Regions from separate parts of the Homo sapiens genome. Here region 1 is linked to region 2. The links come from fine-mapping of genetic effects on gene expression. A gene starts in region 2. The other region holds a variant in brackets. All regions are shown on one strand. Distances are from middle to middle.

Evidence for each region. PIP is the estimated chance that this variant, and not a neighbour inherited with it, causes the effect.
Region 1: its variant is the best candidate, but not a certain one, in a credible set for the expression of GLRX5 in CD8 T cells (CEDAR, PIP 0.68).

What each region holds. Positions count from the first base shown.
Region 1 is chr14:96,436,360-96,447,322 of GRCh38, forward strand. It overlaps AK7 (adenylate kinase 7), which reads left to right. Exons shown (of 18, transcript NM_152327.5): 6 at 1,476-1,556; 7 at 6,371-6,459; 8 at 10,158-10,248. Among named protein-coding and RNA genes, the nearest start is that of AK7, 50 kb to the left of the region's middle. The variant A/G (reference allele first, on the strand shown) is at 5,214.
Region 2 is chr14:95,528,608-95,539,570 of GRCh38, forward strand. GLRX5 (glutaredoxin 5) reads left to right here and starts at 6,443. Exons shown (of 2, transcript NM_016417.3): 1 at 6,443-6,777. The coding sequence starts at 6,483. It overlaps SNHG10 (small nucleolar RNA host gene 10), which reads right to left and starts at 6,265. Exons shown (of 1, transcript NR_003138.3): 1 at 4,305-6,265. It also overlaps SCARNA13. RefSeq lists enhancers at 4,873-5,662, 5,663-6,452, 5,716-6,175 and silencers at 6,316-6,605, 6,816-6,875.

The DNA.
Region 1 (10,963 bases), 910 kb after region 2:
GTAGGCCGGGCGCAGTGGCTTACACCTGTAATCCCAGCACTTTGGGAGGCCGAGGCAGGTGAATCACTTGAGGTCAGGAGTTCAAGACCAGCCTGGCCAACATGGGGAAACCCTGTCTCTATTAAAAGTACAAAAATTACCTGGGCATGGTGGTTCTCACCTGTAATCCCAGCTACTTGGGAGGCTGAGGCAGGAGAATCACTTGAACCCAGGAGGCCAAGGTTGCAGTGAGCCTAGATTATGCCACTGCACTCCAGCCTGGGCAACAAGTGAAACTCTGTCTCAAAACAAACAAACAAACAAACAAACAAAAAACTCCTGTCTTCTTGCACCATCCCCTGTTCGCCTGAAGAAGTTCAAGCGAGTTTTCTGATTGGTGGGTTTGAGGAGGGCCTGGCCATGTGAGCTTGGCCCCTCCTCCTTCCCTTCTCTCTGGGACTCCAGGGATGGTGGCTACTGTGCATTTCACCTTCCTCATGCCCTGAGACTTACAGCAGCAGGCCGCCATGTGGAGGAGTCCCTCGCTGTCCAGTGTGGCCTGGGACTGGTTGGAAAAGTTCATCTTATTCTGGATTCAGGGTTAGGAAGCTCATCATCATGGCTCACCTAAGGCATGGCCTCCAGCAGAACTCATATCAATAATAAAGATGGTATTTTGAGCTTATCTGGTTAAATATTGAGGCAGAGAGTAGAGGCTGAGAAGGGTAGTAGGGGGTGGGGGGAGGGAGGGATAGTGAATGAGTACAAAAAATGTTGGAAAGAATGAATAAGACCTACTATTTGATAGCACAGCAGGGAGACTATAGTCAGTAATAACTGAACTATAGATTTTTAAATAACTTAAAGAGTATAATTGGAGTGTTTGTAATTCAATGGATAAATGCTTGAAGGGATGGATACCCCATTCTCCATGTTGTGCTTATTTCACATTGCATGCCTGTATCAAAACATCTCATGCACCCCCATAAATCTATATACTTATTATGTACCCACAAATATTAAAAATTAAAAATAAAGGAATACTGACTCCAGTTCTTACAGTGCCTAAACTGCTTGTCCAGAGTGAAGTGGACAATCCATGTGAATTTCCATCCTTGTGTTAAGGCCCATTACCAGCTTCTTGGTTTCAGGTACTAGATCATTAAAGATCCTCGTGGAAAGACCTGTTTTTCTTTCTCTTTTCCCCCTCAGTGCCGAGCATAGAGCTTACAGGTACAAAGTTTTCACAAAAACCCTGGCTTTAATTTAATTAGGAGTCCTTGTTAAATTTTAATAGTAGTCAGAGGTATTCCTGAATAGTGCGGGGGTGTCGTTTCTCTCTTTAAGAGATAGGATTTGTATCCCGAACAATACTCAGTAACCTGCAAGAGTTGACGGAAGTTCTGAAAGTGCTCATTTTAACTACTAAAATAATCTGGTTCAGTATGACTAATAATATTACATCCAGCTTTTTTTTTCTGTATTTTATCTAATAGGCCAGAAAATTTGCAGCATACGTAGTTGCTGCTGGACTCCAGTATGGAGCGGAAGGAGGCATGTTACACACATTTTTTAAGGTATGGCTTTCAATGATGACGTGGAATGTTTAAAAGTGTCTTACGATACAGATACGCAATTTGAAGGTGTTTTTGATTGCTTTGGGTGTGGTTAGTGCAGTAGAATAGCAGAAGATGAAGGCAAGTATGGATGTCACCACAAAGACCTACGTTTCTTTCCCATTATTAACTTGTATTCACCACTCTCAAAATAATAATGAAAAAGACGTATCTCCTTTCATTCATGAAACAGATATTGATGTAGTGCCCATCAGGTGCTGGAAACTGTTGTAGGTACTTGGGATACAGTAAAATAATAAAGTCCCTCCTCTTGCGAAGCTTACATTCTAGGGGGATGGAGAAAGAGATAGATAATAAGCAAGCCGGTAAATGTTGAGTATTTCAGATGTTGAAACAGGGTATGGAAAACAACAGAGCAGAGAAAGGCAGAGAGTGCTGGGGAGTAAGGTTGCGGGGATTGGGGCTGTTATATCTTATATAGGAAGGTTGAGGAAGGTCTTTCCAACGATGTGACATTTGAGTAGGAAGGGAAAGGCAATGAAGGAGCTGGCTAATCGGCTTTCTGGAGAAAGACATCCCAGACAGTGAGAATTGTTACTGCAAAGAAGTGAGGCAGAAATGTGCTGGCTACATTTGAAGACCAATCTAGATCAATCTAGCTGAAGTATGGGAGAACAGCGGTAATGAGGTCAAAGCGGTAATGAGAGAGTCAGACCAAGCCCAGCCTGGTAGCCCCTCGTGAAGCTCTGGCTTTCTTTCTGAGTGAGTTGGACAACCATTAGACTGAGCACAGAAGCAACATAATCCATATGATATAAAAGGACAGCTTTCTCCTTCTGCTGTGCTGAGGATGTACTATTTGGGGCATGGGCAGGAGCAGGAAGCAAGGAAACCAGTGAGCAGGGTAGTGCCTAAGACCTGGGTGGGCATGGTGGGGATACTGGAAACTGTTCAGATTTCAGACGTATTTTGAAGAGAGAGTCAATGGGATTTGTTCAAAGCTTGGATGTAAGGATGACAGAAACATAGTAAAGGATAACTTTAAGGATTTTGGTCTAAGCAACTAGAAGTATGGCACTGCCACTTATTGAAATGGGGAAGACAGGGAATGGAGCTGGTTGGGGTACAATGCAATGAAAAGTTCAGGAAGTTTGAGATAATTAATATCCAAGTATAGATACTGGGAAGGCTATTGGACAAAAAGAGTTTGGTGATCATGGGGGAGGTCAGGTCTGGAGATATAATCATGGGAGCTGTCAGTATACAGTGGGTACTTAAATCCTTGGGACTGGATGACATCAACTACTGAATGAATATGGAGAAGAGATAGGGGCCTGAGGACTGAGTCTTGGAACCCTCCAATATTGGAGGTTATAGGGAAATGGGAAGGAATTAGGAAAGGAGGTTGAGAAGGGTGGGCAGGAAGCAGGAGAGGAAATAAGAGAAAAGTAAATAATTATTAAAAAAAATATTTTTGGCCGACTCACGCCTGTAATCCCGGCACTTTGGGAGGCCAAGGCAGGCGGATCACAAGGTCAGGAGATCAAGACTATCCTGGCTAACACGGAGAAACCCCGTCTCTACTAAAAATACAAAAAATTAGCCGGGCATGGTGGCGGGAGCCTGTGGTCCCAGCTACTCGTTAGGCTGAAGTAGGAGAATGGTGTGAACCGAGGAGGCGGAGCTTGCAGTGAGCCGAAATTGCACCACTGCACTCCAGCCTGGGTGACAGAGCGAGACTCCATCTCAAAAAAAAAAAAAAAAAAGTTTTTAAAAAGAAAGAATGACAAATTGTGTCAGATACTGCAGATAATCAACTAAGATGAAACCTACAAATTGACCGCTAAATTTTTTGGCACTAGGTAGGACAAAAGTCTAACAGCCGCAGGTTCAAGAGGAACAGCTGGAGGGGAATTGAAGACAATGAGAACAGAGAAATATTTCAAGGAATTTTCCTGTAAAAGGAGGGGGGTGCAAAGAAAGAAGGCGGAGTTAAAGGATAAAGTGTAGTCAAGAGAGGTTGGTTGAACTGATTTTTAATTTTTATTTGATTTATTTATTATGTATTTATTTATTTAAAGAAGGAGTCTTACTCTTTCACCCAGGCTGGAGTGCAGTGGTGCAATCTCAACTCACTGCAATCTCCACCTCCTGGGTTCAAGCAGTTCTCCTGCCTCAGCCTCCCGAGTAGCTGGGATTACAGGTGTGTGCCACCATGCCCAGCTAATTTTTGTATTTTTAGTAGAGACAGGGTTTCACCATATTGGCCAGGCTGGTCTTGAACTCCTGACTTCGTGATCCGCCCGCCTCAGCCTCCAAAGTGCTGGGATTACAGGCGTGAGCCACCGTGCCCGGCCTCGAACTGATTTTTTTAATACAAGAGATATGACAGTTGCAGAGGAGAAGCTCAAGGAAGCTCTTACTCATTGTCCATTCTCAGCTACTTCTCACCTACCTGCTCACTGAATCTTGGCATTCGCAGGCCTCGGCCCTAGACCTTTTTTCTTCACCCTCTGCTCTCTCTCCCTTGGTCTGTTTATTCCTATGACTGATACCAATGACTCAAACTTCAGTCTCCAGCGAGGCTCTCTCTCCTAAGTTCTAGCTCTGTAGGTCCAGCTGCCTACTCAGCACCTCAACTTGGATGTCTTTCCCAAATCCAAACTATACCTACAGTCATCCCCAAACCTGCTCCTCCTCCAAGGCCCCATCTCAGAAAATGGGGTAACCCTCCAACCAGCTACATGATCAGAATCCAACTCCTCCCTCCTTACTGCAAACCAAAAAGTTTCTGAGACAGGTCTCAATCAATTTAGAAGTTTATTGTGCCAAGGTTAAGGATGCACGCCCAGGAGATAGGCCTGTGCCTTTCTCCAAAGATGACTTTGAGTGCTTCAATATTTAAAGGGAAAAGGGTAGATATTAGAGAAAGAGGAAGAAATTTTTTAAAGATGTGGGTAAGCCAGGCATGGTGGCTGATGCCTATAATCCCAGTAAAGCACTTTCGGAGGCCAGTGTGAGTGGATGGCTTGAACCCAGGAGTTTGAGACCAGCCTGGGCAACATGGTGAAACCCTGCATCTGCAAAAAATAAATAAAAGGTGTGGGTAGATAAGAGGCAAGCGGGCACATTCTTTTGAGTCTTTGATCAGCTGTTCGACATGAGGGAAGGGTAGAGGAATAGTCACTTATGCATTTATCTAGCTCAGCGAATCTGCATTTTTATGTAAGATAAAATAGACATAGGGCCGAGGAAGCAATCAGATAGGCATTTGTGTCAGGTGAGCCTAGGGATGACTTTGAGTTCTGTCCTTGTCCTGTACCTGTGAAGATAAGCTGTCAATTTACATTGTCAGGGTGAAATTCAACAGAACTGTTTTCGGGTAAAGCTCTTGGGGCCTACAGATAATTTCATAGTGGGCAAATTGTGAGGAAGGTATGAGGCCAGGCATGGTGGTTCACGCCAGTAATCCCAGCATATTGGGAGGCTGAGGCGGGTAGATCACCTGAGGTCAGGAGTTCGAGACCAGCCTGGCCAACATGGTGAAATCCCATCTCTATTAAAAATACAAAAATTAGCCAGGTGTGGTGGCACATGCTTGTGATCCCAACTATTCGGGAAGCTGAGGCAGGAGAATCACTTAAACCTGGGAGGCAG[A/G]GGTTGCAGTGAGCTGAGATCCTGCCACTGCACTCCATCCAGCCTGGGTGACACAGCAAGACTCCGTCTCAAAAAAAAAAAAAAAAAAAAGAAAACAAAATAAAATCTTTGAATGAGAGACAGGTTTGCTTTATGTAGTTCCTAGCTTGACTTTTCCCTTTGGCTTAGTGATTTTGGGGTCCCAAGGTTTATTTTCCTTTCACATTACCCATCATAAAATTCCCAGTTACTACAGTCAGCCTCCTCAATGTCTCCCTTCTCTCCATCCCCACTCCCTGCACTTCCCACCTCCAGGCTAAGCTACCCTATTTCGCCTGCACACCTGCCATCACCCCTCTGTCCCCACTGGACTCTCCTTCCCGCCACTTCTCCACAAGGCAACAAAAGCAAGCCTGCTGGTGTCACATCACTGCTTAGAACCCTTCAATACTTTCTGAAAGTCCAAAATATCTTACAAGACCCAGTGGTCTACTGTGACCCCTACCCCTACCTCTTTCACTCTTAACAACAATTCAAAATAATCTAATATGTGACACTTAAACAGTACTCATCATGTCTGTTTGGTTACTGAAATACTTAATGAGAAGAAAAGATGAGGATTTGGACTCTGAGGATCGGGGTTCCAGTCCAAGCTCTCACAAGTGTATCCTCCTGCATGCTACTTATCCGCTAAGCATTTCACCCCTGGACTGATGGTACTTATTTCCCCTCACCTCATCCCTACTGGTGGGGGTAATTTTAAATTTTAATTTGTCTTTTTGTGAGAATTAAGACATCATGCATGTGAAAACATTTCTTCTCTATGTGAATGCCATGCGTATAGCTACTAAATACGGCTGAGAGGTTGTAGATTTCTTGAAAAGTATTTCAGTCCCAGGGCTACACATTATTTCTCTTGGCAGAATTTGATTCAGTCCCAGGGCTACACATTATTTCTCTTGGCAGAATTTGATTCAGTCCCAGGGCTACACACTATTTCTCTTGGCAGAATTTGATCCTAAATCTCATCAGGGCTGATTTATAAAACACCCCCTAGAGGAAATTACTTAAGCAGATAGCTAGGCCTTTCAGTTGCCTCTGACTGTAGACTTATGTGTGAGCTGTAATAGCCATCCACATATAACTGGGGGACATGATTTTGCTTTTCTTCCTTTCAGATGGCTTGGTTGGGCGAGATTCCTGCATTACCAGTTTTTGGCGATGGAACAAATGTAATTCCAACAATCCATGTTCTTGATCTAGCAGGGTAAGCATTCGCCCAGAGACGTGACCTTCACAGAATTGGTTAATGTGTTTGTTTGTAGCCTAATACTTTTTGAGCATTTGCCTAGTGCTAAGACCCTTACATGGATTATTGTGTTCATTCTTCGTAACAACCCTATGCAGAAGGTACCGTCTTCTCCATTTTGCATCTAATGAAATAGTGCCCACTGTTCAAAAGTTCTACATTTCTGGTGACAAGTTCAGGTTCATCTCTTAGAAACTATCGACAGAATAGCAATGCCCTCCAATTTTGGAAAAGAAAGAACTTGGTGTGTACATTCTGAGGACGTAGTTTCTTATTCCTTTGTCCCAGATGAGATTAATATGTCTAACCCGTCAACTTAAATTCTAGAATTCAAATGGAAAACTGTAAACCTGAAGCTTTTTCCTTCTTTGACAGTTGTAGGTAAAGTTGACATATGTTTTTTATACTCACAGAGCATCTAAACCCTGTATTCAGACAGGTCCAGAAACCCTTCTCTTCCTTTGAAGACCCTGACTTAAACGTGAGGTCAATGAGTTGGTTCACTGTGTTTGTGGTTCATCAGCTCCAGCTTCCGGGGACTTCATTCTGTCACCCCTGTGGCACATCCCCAGAAAGGAGCAATTTCTGCACTTCCCTGAGGTTCTGGTTTTCAGATTCCCACTCTTTCTCTCATCCACTGGCCACTAGTAAATTAGTCACAATCTCAGATAAATTTCTAGACTTACTGGGAAATGAAGGAAGTTTAAACTTCAGGGCCACACCCCTGAGCAGATCCCTTTCCAAGACCCTGAACCTAATTTTTATTATTTTTCTTAAAGAAGGATCCTATGAGTCAGGGATATCCAATCTTTCGGCTTCCCTGGGCCACATTGGAAGATTTGTCTTGGGCCACACATAAAATACACTAACACTAACGATAGCTGATGAGCTTTAAAAAAAATAACAAAAAAAACTCATAATTTTTTTTTTTGAGATGGAGTCTCACTCTGTTGCCCAGGCTGGAGTGCAGTGGCACAATCTCGGTTCACCGCAAGCTCTACCTCCCAGGTTCATGCCATTCTCCTGCCTCAGCCTCCCAAGTAGCTGGGACTACAGGCACCCGCCACCATGCCTGGCTAATTTTTTGTATTTTTTTAGTAGAGATGGGGTTTCACCATGTTAGCCAGGATGGTCTCCATCTCCTGACCTCATGATCCACCCGCCTCAGCCTCCCAAAGTGCTGGGATTACAGGCGTGAGCCACTGCGCCCGGCCCAAAAACTCATAATGTTTTAAGAAAGTTTACAAAGTGTGTTGGGCCACATTCAAAGCCATCCTGGGCCTCACGCAGCCCACAGGCCCTGGTTTGACAAGCTTGCTGTAAATGGGCTAAGCTTCAGGCACTACAAAACCCTGGATCTGCTCCATCCCTGGGGATGGAGGGGCCGAAACATACCCATTTTTTTCTGCAGAGATTTTACATTATGACATTACTGGGTTTCAAAGATACAGAAGAGTCTTTTACATTATTAATATAACTTACTTGGCATTAATCCTTAACATATTACGTCCAAACATAAATTAGAGGGTGAAATGATTGCCATTACAGAAGGACTTAGAGCCTGTTAAAAACAAGTTATAGGAGGCCATTGTTTTGGAGTAAGTTCTTGTACTAGGCCCCAACAGACCAGACTGAAAATCAAAATGGAGTCACCCATGCCAAAGTTCCAGTCACCAAACTGAAACTAAGCTGTTACCTGACCTTTCGAGAAAGCCAAAGAGAGCAACAACAGCTAATTTCCCAAACAAGCCAGTTTCAGTCTTCAATAGGCATGATAATAAAGCTCTCTGTGTTTTAATCCTTATGGCAAAAAGTAGCCTAAAGTAACCTGGTACTAACCTATCGGTTATCTTTCCTTTTTTTTTTTTTCCTTTTGAGATGGAGTCTCGCTCTGTCACCCAGGCTGGAGTGCGGTGCCACAACCTTGGCTCACTGCAACCTCCGCCTCCTGGGTTCAAGCGATTCTCCTGCCTCAGCCTCCCAAGTAGCTGGGACTACAGGCGCCGGCCACCACGCCTGGCTATTTTTTGTATTTTTAGTAGAGACAGGGTTTCACCATGTTGGTCAGGCTGGTCTCGAACTCCTGATCTCAGGTGATCCATCCGCCTCAGCCTTCCAAAGTGCTGGGATTACAGGCGTGAGCCACCACGCCCAGCCCCATTAGTTATCTTTATGTTGTTCTCCTTGTCCCTGCCTTACAAGGAAACTAACTTTGAAATGACCAATGTGCTTTTTGTTCTTTGTTTCTGCTTTCTGCAGCCCTTTCTGCCTATCAAACTACCCGCCTCTGCTCATTTCACTGACACACTTGTTCTATTTTATGGAATGAAATGTTGCCTGATTCTAGAATCACAAATAAAGTCCATTGAAATCTTTAACTAGATTTGTTATAATTTTGTCTTTTGACAGACCCTTTTAAGTAGCATTTTTTCCCCAGAGGTTTCTTTGAAGATTGTCAAATATTTAACAGAGGAAAAAGCAAAAAGCTGAAATGTTCTGAGAAATGGGTAGAAAATAGGCTAGGTGCAGTGGCTCATGCCTGTAATCCCAACACTGTGGGAGGCCAAGGTGGGAGGTTCGCCTGAGCCGAGGAGTTCGGGACCAGGCTGGACAACATAGTGAAACCCTGTCTCTACAAAAAATACAAAAATTAGTCGGGTTTGGTGGCTCATGCCTGCAGTCCCAGCTACCCGGGAGGTGGAGGCGGGAGGATCACTTGACCCTGGGAGTTTGAGGCTGCAGTGAACCGTGATAACACCACTGCCTGCCAGCCTGGGCAACAGAGCGAGACTCAAAATAAATAAATAAATGAGTGAATAAATAAATAAATATAGAAAAAAAGAAATGAATACAAAATAAATGTGAACTGCACATTTGGAAGCGTGCATTCGATTTATTTTCATTTTATTGAAAGGAAGCTAAGATGGAGGTAGAATTGACAAGCCATTGTGATAGACATCTATTCACTGTTGTTTCTCTCTGGAATTTAATTTTTGTTCCAATCCCTGCTCTGCTTCTCACTAGCTGTGTGAATTTAGGGAAGTTACTTACGGGGATAGGAGCAGCACCTACATGCTAGGGCTGTGAAAATTTAGTGGGATCACACCTGTGCCACCCTCAGCACAGAAGCAAGCGCTCGGAAACCTTGGCAACTGGGATAGGAAAGCAGGCTCAGGCACTGTTGCTGCGTGACTTCCTTAAAGAGCCACAGCTTGTCTAAATCTGTGTCTTACTTTGTAAAATACCTCCCTAAAGCATTGTTGTGAGGCTCACACGAGCCCCTAGATGGGGAGGGCTTCATAAACTGGGGTCCTGCTGGGGGCCGGTCCTGCTGGGGGCAGTTCCCCTTGTTGGGAGACAGGGCAGTATGCTAGAAAGAAGACAGGTCCAGAACCAGATGCATCTGACCTCAAAAGCTGGCTCTTCCACTTTCGCAATAGCTCTTCAGCCTGAGAAATGTCACCGAACCCTTTAGCATCTTCCTCATGTGGAGAATGCAGATAACCATCCCAACCCTGACCGTATTGAAAATGGAGATAACTTATCAAAGCACCAAACCCCACGCCCAGCCATGGGGGTGGTGGTCAGTGAATTCTAGTTTACTGCATCTCTTTCGCTTTTTCCCTTTGATGATTATTTTACCTGTGGGTCTGCAGAGTGATACAAAACGTCATAGATCACGTGCCAAAGCCTCACTACCTGGTTGCTGTGGATGAGTCTGTTCATACCCTGGAAGACATAGTCAAGGTACAGTGGTTTCATCCCATACTTTGATGACATATCGTAAATAGTTTTGCTGGCTGGGCGCGGTGGCTCATGCCTGTAATCCTAGCATTTTGGGAGTCCGAGGCGGGTGGATCACCTGAGGTCAGGAGCTCAAGACCAGCCTGACCAACATGATGAAACCCCATCTCTACTAAAATACAAAAATTAGCCGGGCATAATGGCGGGTGCCTGTAATCTCAGCTACTCGGGAGGCTGAGACAGGAGAATCGCTTGAACCCAGGAGACGGTGGTTGCAGTGAGCCAAGATTGTGCCACTGCACTCCAGCCTGGGCGGCTGAACAAGACTCCATCTCCAAAAAATAAAAAATAAAAAATTAAAATAAAAATAAATTAAAAAGTTTTGCCCCCAATCAGTTGTGCTAACAAAACTGGGACTCCTAAGAAGAATATCCGTAAAACCCAAACTCACTATCTGCATTTGCAGTATATACTTTGAGGTTACTACCAAAATAGCCTTTCTCTTTTATATGTACAGAGGGAAATAAGAAAGACTGCTGTAGGGCTCAGGTTAAGAAGATGGCGATCATTGCACCCCAGACACACACGCAGATGACACACCAGAATACGAAAATCCGCCAATAGGCACTTGCCCCAAAGTATTGATATGATCAGGTTCACCAACCTACTGGCCAATTCCAGGAGTTCTATTTTTAATATTATTTATTTGTTTATTTAC
Region 2 (10,963 bases):
CTATTTATTTGTTTATTTCTGAGACAGAGTCTTGCTCTGTCGCCCAGGCTGGAGTGCAGTGGTGCGATCTTGACTCACTGCAACCTCCACCTCCTGGGCTCAAGCAATTTTCCTGCCTCAGCCTCCCAAGTAGCTAGGACTACAGGCACCCACCACCATGCTCGCCTAATTTTGCATTTTTAGTAGAGCCGGGGTTTCACCATGTTGGCCAGGCTGGTCTCGAACTCCTGACCTCAGGTGATCCACCCGCCTCGGTCTCCCAAAGTGCTGGGATTACAGGCATGAGCCACTGCGCCAGGCCTAGATGAACGATTGAAGAAGGCTGGAGCAATGGGTTCCCACAATAGCAAGACTGCATTTTGAAGGCATGAAATTATTAAAGCTCAAAGACTGAAGTACAAAGTGAAATTCTGACTCATGATAAAGTGTATTTATGGCCTTGGCAATACATCTTAGCAATTATTCAAAAGAAAACAATTAAATTTCCTAAATGTTCTTCTGGCTGCAAACTCAGTGACTATCAGAGGGAGACATAAACTTCTGCTAACAGATAAATCTTCCTAACAGGTTGGATACACAACAGCACTGCCTCCTTACTCTTTCTATTCTGCGATCTAGGGACCTTTTCAGGTCTCTGGAATGTAATAATTTGAGTTATAGAAACTATCTGCTGGTTAAAAAAAAAAGAAACACATAATACTACAAAACACTGCCATTAAACAGGCAGTTGGGGAAAATAAACAATTCTTTCATCACCTTTAACCAAAAGGCTTAACAAGTTTTACGATTACCACTTAATTCTCAATACCACTTTCCGGGAGATATGATTCAGGCCCATGTCCTTGTTATTAAATAAGGCTTGCAACAGAATGAAATCCAACAGGTGTATGACTTTCAAGGCACGCAGCCGAGGAGCTTGGCCCTCAATGCGAGAAAGCAGCGTGGGGACAAGAGGAACATAGCTTTCAGAAACAGCAGGCTATAGGCTTAGATTTTTTTTTATTAGATTTTTGGTTTTCTGTGTGTTTGTCTGTTTTTTTGAGTTGGAGTCTCGCTCTGTTGCCCAGGCTGGAGTATGCAGTGAAGTGGCGAGATCTCAGCTCACTGCAACCTCCGCCTCCTGGGTTACAGCAATTCTCCTGCCTCAGTCTCCAAGCAGCTGGGATTACAGGTGCCCGCTACCACGTCCGGCTAATTTTTTGTATTTTTAGTAGAGATGGGGTTTCGCCATGTTGGCCAGGCTGGTCTTGAACTCCTGACCTTAGGTGATCTGCCCGCCTTGGCCTTCCAAAGTGCTGGGATTACAGATGTGAGCCACCACGTCCAGCTATTAGATCTCTGGATTGAACTTTTGTCATTTTAATTTACAAAGCCCAAAAATCATCTGTGTATCTAGTATATATGCAGAGCCAGCAAAGATAACTGGGATAGTTGATTTTCTACAGGACTTGTTGGTGATGCTATGAATCAGCAGGAAAACAGAAATTGCATGTGAAGGCAACAAAACTTAGAGACACAAGTGCTAATGTCTATCAACATATTATATTAGAAAAAAACATAATTTGGAGACCAAAATGTCTGAGAACTGTTATCCTAGGGTTAATGTATGCTTCGAATGAATTCATGTATACACACAAAAATTTAACAAAAAAGTACAATCTATGCAAGATGATAACATTTGGGGGTAAATATTTATGAGCAGAGAAAGTACACACAGATTTCTTACAACGCTGCAGCCTTTATATGAAGAAATTCTTCAATTATATACAAACTTCGGCAGACATCAATTTGGATTTTTCCAAAATCCAGAAAGGGGAAAATAGATGTGGAAAAATCTGAGGAAAATCAAAAAGAACTCAAGTACTCAGCGACGTTTAAGACCAGAACCCAGGACTACACCTCCACCCAAATTCCAGGACAAAACTGGGTTGTCATGGCATCTGGGCTTTTCATAAATGCTCACCTATCTCCCACGGTCTATTCTAGACTGAACTAACCAGATCTACAGCATGCCCTTTCTCTTCAGTGACCCAGTGACTCAGGGCAGGTGAAGGGAGCAGGACTTGTGTGACACAGTGGAGGCTGGCCTGCCTTCCTGTCTCCAAGATGTGGGCGGCAGGGATGAGCAAAGCCTCGGCCAAAGAAGTATTAATAAACCAGCTGCCTTGTCAGATAGAGGTAGTCGAAATCCAACAAGCATTTCTATCTCCACAATAGGGACTAGAAAAATTCTGAGGGCTGCATTTTGCTTCAGTTTCTTATACATTACATTATTTTTGGTGTTATCAGGGAATCCAGGTAGTTCCAGGGTTGCAGTGATGCTCTAAAACTACTAGATGATAGCTCAGTGCATCACAGAGGAAGCTTTCAGGTTCCAGCTCAGGTCAATAGAATCTGCTATTTTAGCTTAGGAATGCGTGGTGGTTCGGCCCCTTGTACAATCCAAGCAGCCATTTTGCCCTTAATATGACATTTGCAGAATGTTCTGGCCAGCTCAGATAGACACTTCTGTACCACACGTTCTCATGCAAACACACCCTCTCATTTTCTAAGAACAAACAAGAATGCAGCACTGAGCATAAAATGAACAGGGCCAGTGCGGCGGCTCACACCTGTAACCCTAGCACTTTGGGAGGGCAAGGCGGGAGGAGTATTCGAGACCAGGTGTTGGAGACCAGTCTGGGCAACCTACTGAGACCTCATCTTTTTAAAAAATAATTTTTTAAAAAAGTAAAGGTACAGAAACACTGACATGTGGAGTGCTCAGATAAAGCATCACCTTCAGTTCAATAATCTGAACTCTAGTTCTTCATTTGGGGCTGATAAACGGAAGAAGCTATCTCAGATATGTGGAGGTTTACACGATGAATTCAATGGCGAATTTGTTTTTGGAGAAGTGGATAGAAAACAGGAGTTCTACCAAATATAGTAAAGCCTTATCTATAAATAAACACAAGGAAGAAAAACATTTTTAGGATGCCTGAGTCAGCATGTTTACACGGCATGATTATTTAGTTTGGGGTTTAACCAATCCTGTGACTCAAATCCCAGGATTCTCAGAAGTTCCTGAGTACTTCCCACCCTCACCTCTTCACTAATGTTCACGAGGCAGGAAGCCATCACATGCTAAGACAGGCCATTTACTCAAAACACCCAAAACATCTGGTCATAGATGCAGACTGATGACAACTGTTTATTTAAGATGTATATTTTGTCATGTTTTCATCATAGGACTAAAGAGGAATCTCAAAACCAAAATGCCAAACTTTATGCAAAAGTCTGATACTTTGGACGAAGTATTTTGAATACTGTTTTCTTTGCTTCTTAAGATCACTGATGTTTGGTGCTAAGTATTTCACTATATTTTGGGTTGTTTTATTAAAAATTTAAATTTAGATGTATTGTTTCAATTTCTTTGGTTCAGATACATGATCTGTTTCCTGCCCTTGCTCATGCTATCAAAATAGCTCCTTGAAAGAGCACCAACATGCTTTTCCATATCCTTAGCATTTCACACACTGTATGTTCTTATCATATTCTACAAAAACACGGCAACTTCACTATGATTTAGCAAAACACAGGCTTTGTACTCTTCCTTCTCAAGGATTACTCTTAATCTTTAATGGCAGCTGCATTCTCAACTTAATACAACGTTCAACAAATAAAAAAGACAACTGCTTCTGAGCCCAATATTATACATTAGGTAAGGAACACGATACTCCTCATTACTGTTCTGTCTCAGGATATAAGTTTGCAAATTCTTCTCCTGATCTCAGTCAACATAAAAGCAGAATTACAGTTTAGAGTGGGCAATGAGAAAGGTGGAATCAAAATAGACACAGGGAAGGCCATAAAGAGTTCGCAAGCATAAATGCCTGATAGCAAAAACGATCACAGAAGATTCCAAAACCACAATCCTGCACAAAGGCCATCTCAATCTTACACAAAAAATACTTCTGCAATGCCTGCCGAGCACCTGCCTGTCCAACCTGGGACTGGTGTCACCTTTGTTACTGATCCTTGTAGTCAAAAATAATTATCTCAAAACAATTATGTAACCCTCCTCATTTTTCCTTTAAAGACCTTTGTCTTCCTCTATCTCCCAGGATACACACAGTTAACTATCGCATGCATTTTCTCATTGCAGTGCTCTATTCCTGAATAAATGCCATTTTCTTTTAGAGAGCCTCTCTCTGTTCGTTATTTAAGTTGACAGCAACAAACAGTTTAGGTTTTTGGCAACAAATCACCAATATTTACTTAAAAACAAACAAAACACTTACAACACAGGTAGGAACAACAGGTTATTTTGGAAAGAGTTTAATATATTCTCTATTGTTAAGTGCACCAGATGCTGGACTTCTGAAACAACAATTATGCTTCTGCATAATAGCTTTTTCTACATATTTCTGTTCATGTTGCTTGTTCCTCTGATTTACCTGGAATCAATGAATCTGAAAAACAAAAAGATTCTTTAAGCACCTGGTAAATTTCAGGTCCCACATTAGAAAATGAGCAATCATCAATAATATTGATGGGGGTGAAAATATGACATTGAGACTTTCGGGTAATGTGCCGAGTTTACTTTCATAGTTTACTAGGCTCAGGTTTCATGCCGAAGGATTATTTGAAAGACTCACTCACTGACATGATTTTCTGATTTTAAATTCGAACACTCTCAAAGCATAAACAGATCACCTCCAGCAACATTGTAAAAAAATACTCAAAGTTTAAAAAAAAAAAAGTAACTTGTGGCAGTACTTAGTGTTCAACAGAAAACACTCCATCTGCTAAACAATATCTCGACTGCAAAGCTTCTCTTACTGTTGGCGGATAGATAATGACATAGCCCAGTCATTATCACCGTGGCAACAGTGACCAGAAACTATCAGAGGAAAATTGCACATGGAACAGCTGGCTCTCGAGCAGGCATGCCTCAGCTTCCTCTGGAGTATGCTTTTTCTGCAAGTCTGGTGTGCTCGAGGGTACCACCAACCCTGTGCGGCTCCAAGACTACAGATTATGTAGCAAGTCCACTGGTCCTGCTCTTCCGGATTTATTCTTCCCGCCAATAGGAGCACTTACCACGTTCCAAGCATCGTCCTAGGCACTGAGGATACAGCAGTGAATAAAACTGAGTGCTGGGTAGGAAGTCAATAACCAAGCTAGTAAATAACTGTATATTGTCAAGCACTGGTAAGTACAAGGGAGAGCAGAGCAAGCAATGGGCCTGATGAGGCTTGCTTTGTCTCCTCTGCACTCCCACACTGCTTTGTATCTGCTTCTCATTTCTCACGATGGGTCCAAGCTTTGGGCACCAGGTCTCCCTGGACATTCCGCGCTGGCACTGCGCCTAGCACCCAGCGGCTGCTCAGGAAACGTTTGTCGAACGAACGAATTCACTTCTTAGTTCCCCATTCAACAAACCTTTCCTGATCCTAGGCCCAACAGGTTAAAAGGCTGGAGGGCCAACGAGGCTGGAAACTCAGAGGCGGCCGGGGGCGGTGGCTCACGCCTGTAATCCCAGCACTTTAAGAGGCCGAGGCAGGAGGATCCCTTGAAGCCAGGAGTTCGAGACCAGCCTGGGCAAAAAAGTGAGACATCGACCCCCCGCCCCCGCCGCCAATTCCGTCTCTACAAAAAGGAAGAAAAAAAAAAAAAACCCAGAGGAAATCACACAGGCAAAAGCGCTTTACAAATTTTAAAAATGAAAACTGTTCTAGAGAAATAATCGCGCGCCGGAGGCGGAAGCCCCAGAGCCTCAGCTCCCACGTGGCGGCGGAGCCAGGGAAAGTCCAGGAGCCAAGGCTACGGCCCGAGCGCTGGAACCCCGGTCAGGCTCCGGCTCCCCGCCACGACGAACTGCATGCGGCCGCGGCGCTCCGGAGGCGCCCGGGGACGCTCACCTAAGCTGGGAGAGGCGGATACCCGCCCGGCCTAGCCCCGCTACCTCCCAAGAGACCAACACGACAAGCGCGCGCCCACCGCATTGCCATGGCAATTCAACCGCCGCTGACACCGGAACCGGAAACTTCATCAGGAGGTGACCCCTTCCCGGCGTTCCGCGGAACGGGCGAGTCCCGCGCCTCTCCCAGTTGTCTCGGCGTAGTCCAGCTGGCCTCATTGGCTCACAGGAGGAAAGTCGTCTTCCCTCTTGTTTTGCCTCTCGTTGCCCTGCAAGCGTGACCCTGATGGACATCCAGTCTCTCCAATTAACTAACAAAGCGGTTGCCGACGACCAATAGTAAGGCAGTAGGATGAGGCTCCGGCATAAGGCCCACCTCCTACCTGCCGGGCGGGACGAGCAACATGATTGGTGGAATCGAGTAATTACTGATCAGTATTGTCCAATCACGGAGGGCAGTTTAGAGCCGGCCCAATGAGGGCCTCCAGGGGGCGGGTCGGACTGCCGCGGGCCGGGGAGCGCTCTGGGTGGCCAGCTGTGGGCCCGGGCCGTCGTGGGCTCCGGCTTGCGTGCGGAGATGAGCGGGTCCCTCGGCCGAGCTGCGGCGGCTCTGCTCCGCTGGGGGCGCGGCGCGGGCGGCGGTGGCCTTTGGGGTCCGGGCGTGCGGGCGGCGGGCTCGGGCGCGGGCGGCGGCGGCTCGGCGGAGCAGTTGGACGCGCTGGTGAAGAAGGACAAGGTGGTGGTCTTCCTCAAGGGGACGCCGGAGCAGCCCCAGTGCGGCTTCAGCAACGCCGTGGTGCAGATCCTGCGGCTGCACGGCGTCCGCGATTACGCGGCCTACAACGTGCTGGACGACCCGGAGCTCCGACAAGGTCAGGCCAGTGTGCCGGGCAGGCGCCCTCCGCCCCGGGCCCAGGAGCATCGCTGCACGAGGCCGAGGGGTTCCGCCGCGCCGGGCTGGGGAGCGGGGCTCCATCCGCCGGGGTCTGTCTGAAGGTTCGAGCCGGGTTAGGGCGAGGAGTACTGCCCTGGAGTAGAGTCTGGGCTGAGGGTGTAGTTGATTTCACTGGGTCTTGAGGATCTGGGGCTCTGTACTGTTGCCAACTTGAGCAGTAGGTAAAGTCCTAAAGGTTCACTTATCCTCACTTCGAGCTAATATAGGCGTTTCGGGGCGATTTGTCAATGACTGACTCGGAGGAGGGTGGCCCGCTGCCTGACTGCTCTGCACGGTTAGGAAACTCATAGTAAGGACCCACTGTGAGATAGGTACTTTCGCGGACACTTTGGGGAGGTTGGAAGCCATTGGCCTACTCGTGGGTAAGGTCTAGGGCTGTCGATGGTGGGGAGAGGGCTGAGGTTGCCCTTGAGGCTAGTGAGGTCGGAGGCTGATCTCGCTTGGCTCACGGCTCAGGGTGTCAAGCATCATCCTCTGTGGTTGCTACAAGCAAAGGGTTGGGACAGCTGTCGGCTGACCTTAGTCGGGATCTATGTTGTCGGGGAAGAGTCATGACATTTGGCTTTAGATACTCAAGCACAGGGCTGAATTTATGTGGGCCAGGGCTTGGAGAGGTTTGTGGGGAAAAGAAGCAGCCCTGGCTCCTGGGCCCTGGGCTAACTCACTGGCTCAGCCTTGGAGCCCAGGGGGCCAGGGCACCAGGGACCAGATGGATTAGGCCGGGAGAGGGAAGGCTGCAGCTAATAAGCATCTTTTCCAAGTACTCCACGTGCATTCGCCAGTCTTATCTGAGTAGGGGAGGAGGAAGAGGCCAGGCACAAGGGCCTGCTCCTTGGCCAGGATGGTCAGGGTTGGTGGAAAACTGGGAAGGCTGTACCTTTTCCTTCTAGAGAGTGACTTAGGATACCTGCATCCCAGTTAGAGACTTTCAGTGACTGAGTCCCTGCATGTCCCTAGCTAAAAAGAGGTGCCAGTTGTGTGCTAAAAATAGGTGCCAGGTTCTCTGTTACTCTAAATTCGAAATTACTAATCATAGTCATTGCTTACAATGATGAGACAGGCTGGTGTTTGGAAAAGCTTTGGGTTGACATCCTCTTCTGTGGCTAATCAGGTGTAAAACTTAAGTCACTCACCTGCATTTGAGGATAATGAGACAATTTGGCAAAGTTTGTGTTAGGAAGCCAAAGTAAAAATTATAGAAAGTGTGTATTATTTTACCTGGCACAGAAAGCACCCGGTAAATGGTAGCTGGCTTCGTATTAGCACTTGATGGTTTTCAAATGTATTTTTTCCCAGATTATCTAGTCCTTAAAGACTCTTGGGGATAACTGATCCTCCATTTGCTGTAGGTGATAGTGGTGGTGGGTGGGACCTAGAAAGCATGTTGAGTTGAGGAGTCGAGAGGGCAGGTTCAAATTACCACGTATATGTAATATTACCATGTGTTATTCTCATGACCCTTTTGTCTTCCTTGTCAACTAGTATGCCACCAGTTACTGGGCTCAGTTTTATCATGTGCAAGGCAAGGGACCTGCAGTCTTCCTTCGAAGACAGCTTCTCTGCTTAAAAGAGGAGTAACTATTTTGCAGTCTTTTGACAGAGACCTTGCAGGGAGTCCCCTGCAAATTGCCAATATGGCACTAGTAAAAAAGTGGTGTTGTTATCTCGCTTAGTATCATGTTTCGAGGGTCTTTGGTTTGTGAATTTATTTTCTCTTGTTTAATATAACTGGAAATGAGATATGCTGGAATATAGCTAGTAAACGGAAAATAGGAGCAAAAATACGAATATGTACTGATAACATTTTATTTTTCTGTCTTTTATCCACGTCTGGTGTCTGGTTTCTGAGCTTACTTTCTTAAGTTTTCAAACAGCAGCGACAGGAATTTAACCCTTACATTCCTTGACCACTGAGTTTCATCAGATTGCTATTTTGGTTAATAAACGCGTTGCATATATATTGAATATAACATACCTCTTTTATTGATTAGAAAAGTAAAGATTAGTAAGTATTAACATTTGGACTGGGCAGGGTGGTAAAAGCACGTTCCCCAAATGGGGATTAGTTCAGCCAGGTTATTAAGACTCTTCCCCTCTTCCCTATACAGCTTTATTTACCAAGAGCAACTAACGGGCTGTCCGATGCTTGCTTTTGCCAGCCGAAACTATGTTTGTACACCAGATCCAAGGTCATTTCTAGTAATAGGAACGGAGCTCTTGCAAAACTGGCCTTTTGTTGGTTCTTATGCCAAGGAGACCTGAACTTTACAAAGTGCCTAAACCGGAGGAAAACATTCTTTCCTAGTTTTGAGTACTGGGTTCCCAGGAGTGTGATACAGACACATCTTGAGACTGTGACCCAAGGAACAAAGGTGACTATGAGGCAGCATTGTGTTCTGGCCTTCTCAAGACCTTCTTGTCCTTCTCTTTTTATCTGGAGTGCACACAGAAGACAGTCACAAAGGGATCAGGTCCCAGTAGACTGACATCATCATTTCCTAATCCTGGTCTTAATAAAGGAACTTATGCTCATGGAAGCAATGTAGAAAACACTGAAAAGTTTAAAGAAGGAAAATCACCTGTAATTTATGGAAACTATTGTATTAACATTTAGATCTAGTTCCTAACAGTTTTTTTTTTTTTAACACATTGAGACCATGCTTGTCTATACATAGTATTTTGCCCTCCAGAGACGAGGGAATATGTCTTATGCCACTGCCTGTGGTGCTGTGTGTACCGCTTATGCAAAGCAAGCTTTCAGTGAGCATTTTAATAAATAAATAAATACTGCTTTTATTTATCATTATATTGCAAACTCTGCGGCCTTAAAGGCATTATAAACATTTGCTGCCGATTTAGATCATCATTGTAGTCCTTGCATCTGGAACAGTGACAGAATAGGGACTCAAATGATTTGTTGAATAAATAACCATATCCTGTTGTTGAATGTTTATTAAGCATTTGAAAATACGCTCCACCTTTTCAGTATCAGGGAATTGAAGACAGTAGTGAAACATGTCATGCTGGTGAACCTTAAAAGTTGGATAACAAGTTGTGTGTATGTGCTTGTGTGGTGCACATGTATGCTGCAGATGGGAGTATAAAATGGTACCAACACTTTGGAGGAGTAACTATCAGTACCCAGTCAAGCTATGGGTGAACAGAGCCTAAGACCCAGCTGCGTGACTCCTAGGTATATATTCTAGAGAGGGGGATCTGCAAACTTACCCTAGTAAAGGGCCAGAGACTAAGTACGTCAGGCTTTGTGGGCTGTGTGGTTTTTGTTGCATCTATTCAACTCTGCTGTTATATAGCCTGAAGTCAGTCATGGGCAATATGTAGATGAATGAGCAGGCTGAGTTTCAATAAAACTTTATTTATGAAAATACAGCTTTAATTACGAAGTAGACTGGATTTGGCCTGAAGACCATAGTTTATCTGTCCCTGGCCTAGAGACTGACTTCTGCATGTGTGTGTTAGGACATGGGTCCCCAACCCCCAGGCCAGGGATCGAGGACTTACAGCAGGAGGTAAGCGGTGGGTAAGTGAGCTTTACCGCCTGAGCTCCGCCTCCTGCCACATCAGTGACGACATTAGGTTCTCATAGGAGCACAAACTCTATTGTGAACTGCACATGTGAGGAATCTAGGTTGTGCGTTCCTTACGAGAATGTAACTAATGCCTGATGATGTGAGGTGGAACCGTTTCATCCCGAAGCTATCCCCACCCTTCCCTGGTCCGTGGAAAAATTGTCTTCCACAAAACCAGTCCCTGGTGCCAAAAAGGTTGGGGACCTCTGTGTTAGGATACCTGTGTTGGCGCGTTCATTGCAGCATGGCTTGCAATAATGAAAAACTGACAGGAAGGGATCTTGGTCTATTAGCAGCAGACCAGATAAATAAACTTTAGTCACATGATGGAAAGCTAAACTGTAGTTAAAATGAACTAGATCTAGATGTATTTAACATGGCTGAATCTCAAAAATACAATATTTAGTCAAAAAGCAAGTTGCAAACACGTAATTATGGCATAATACCATTTGTATATGTAAATGTTAAAGGCATAAAACAGTCCCATATATTGCAGATATGTGTGCAGTGCAC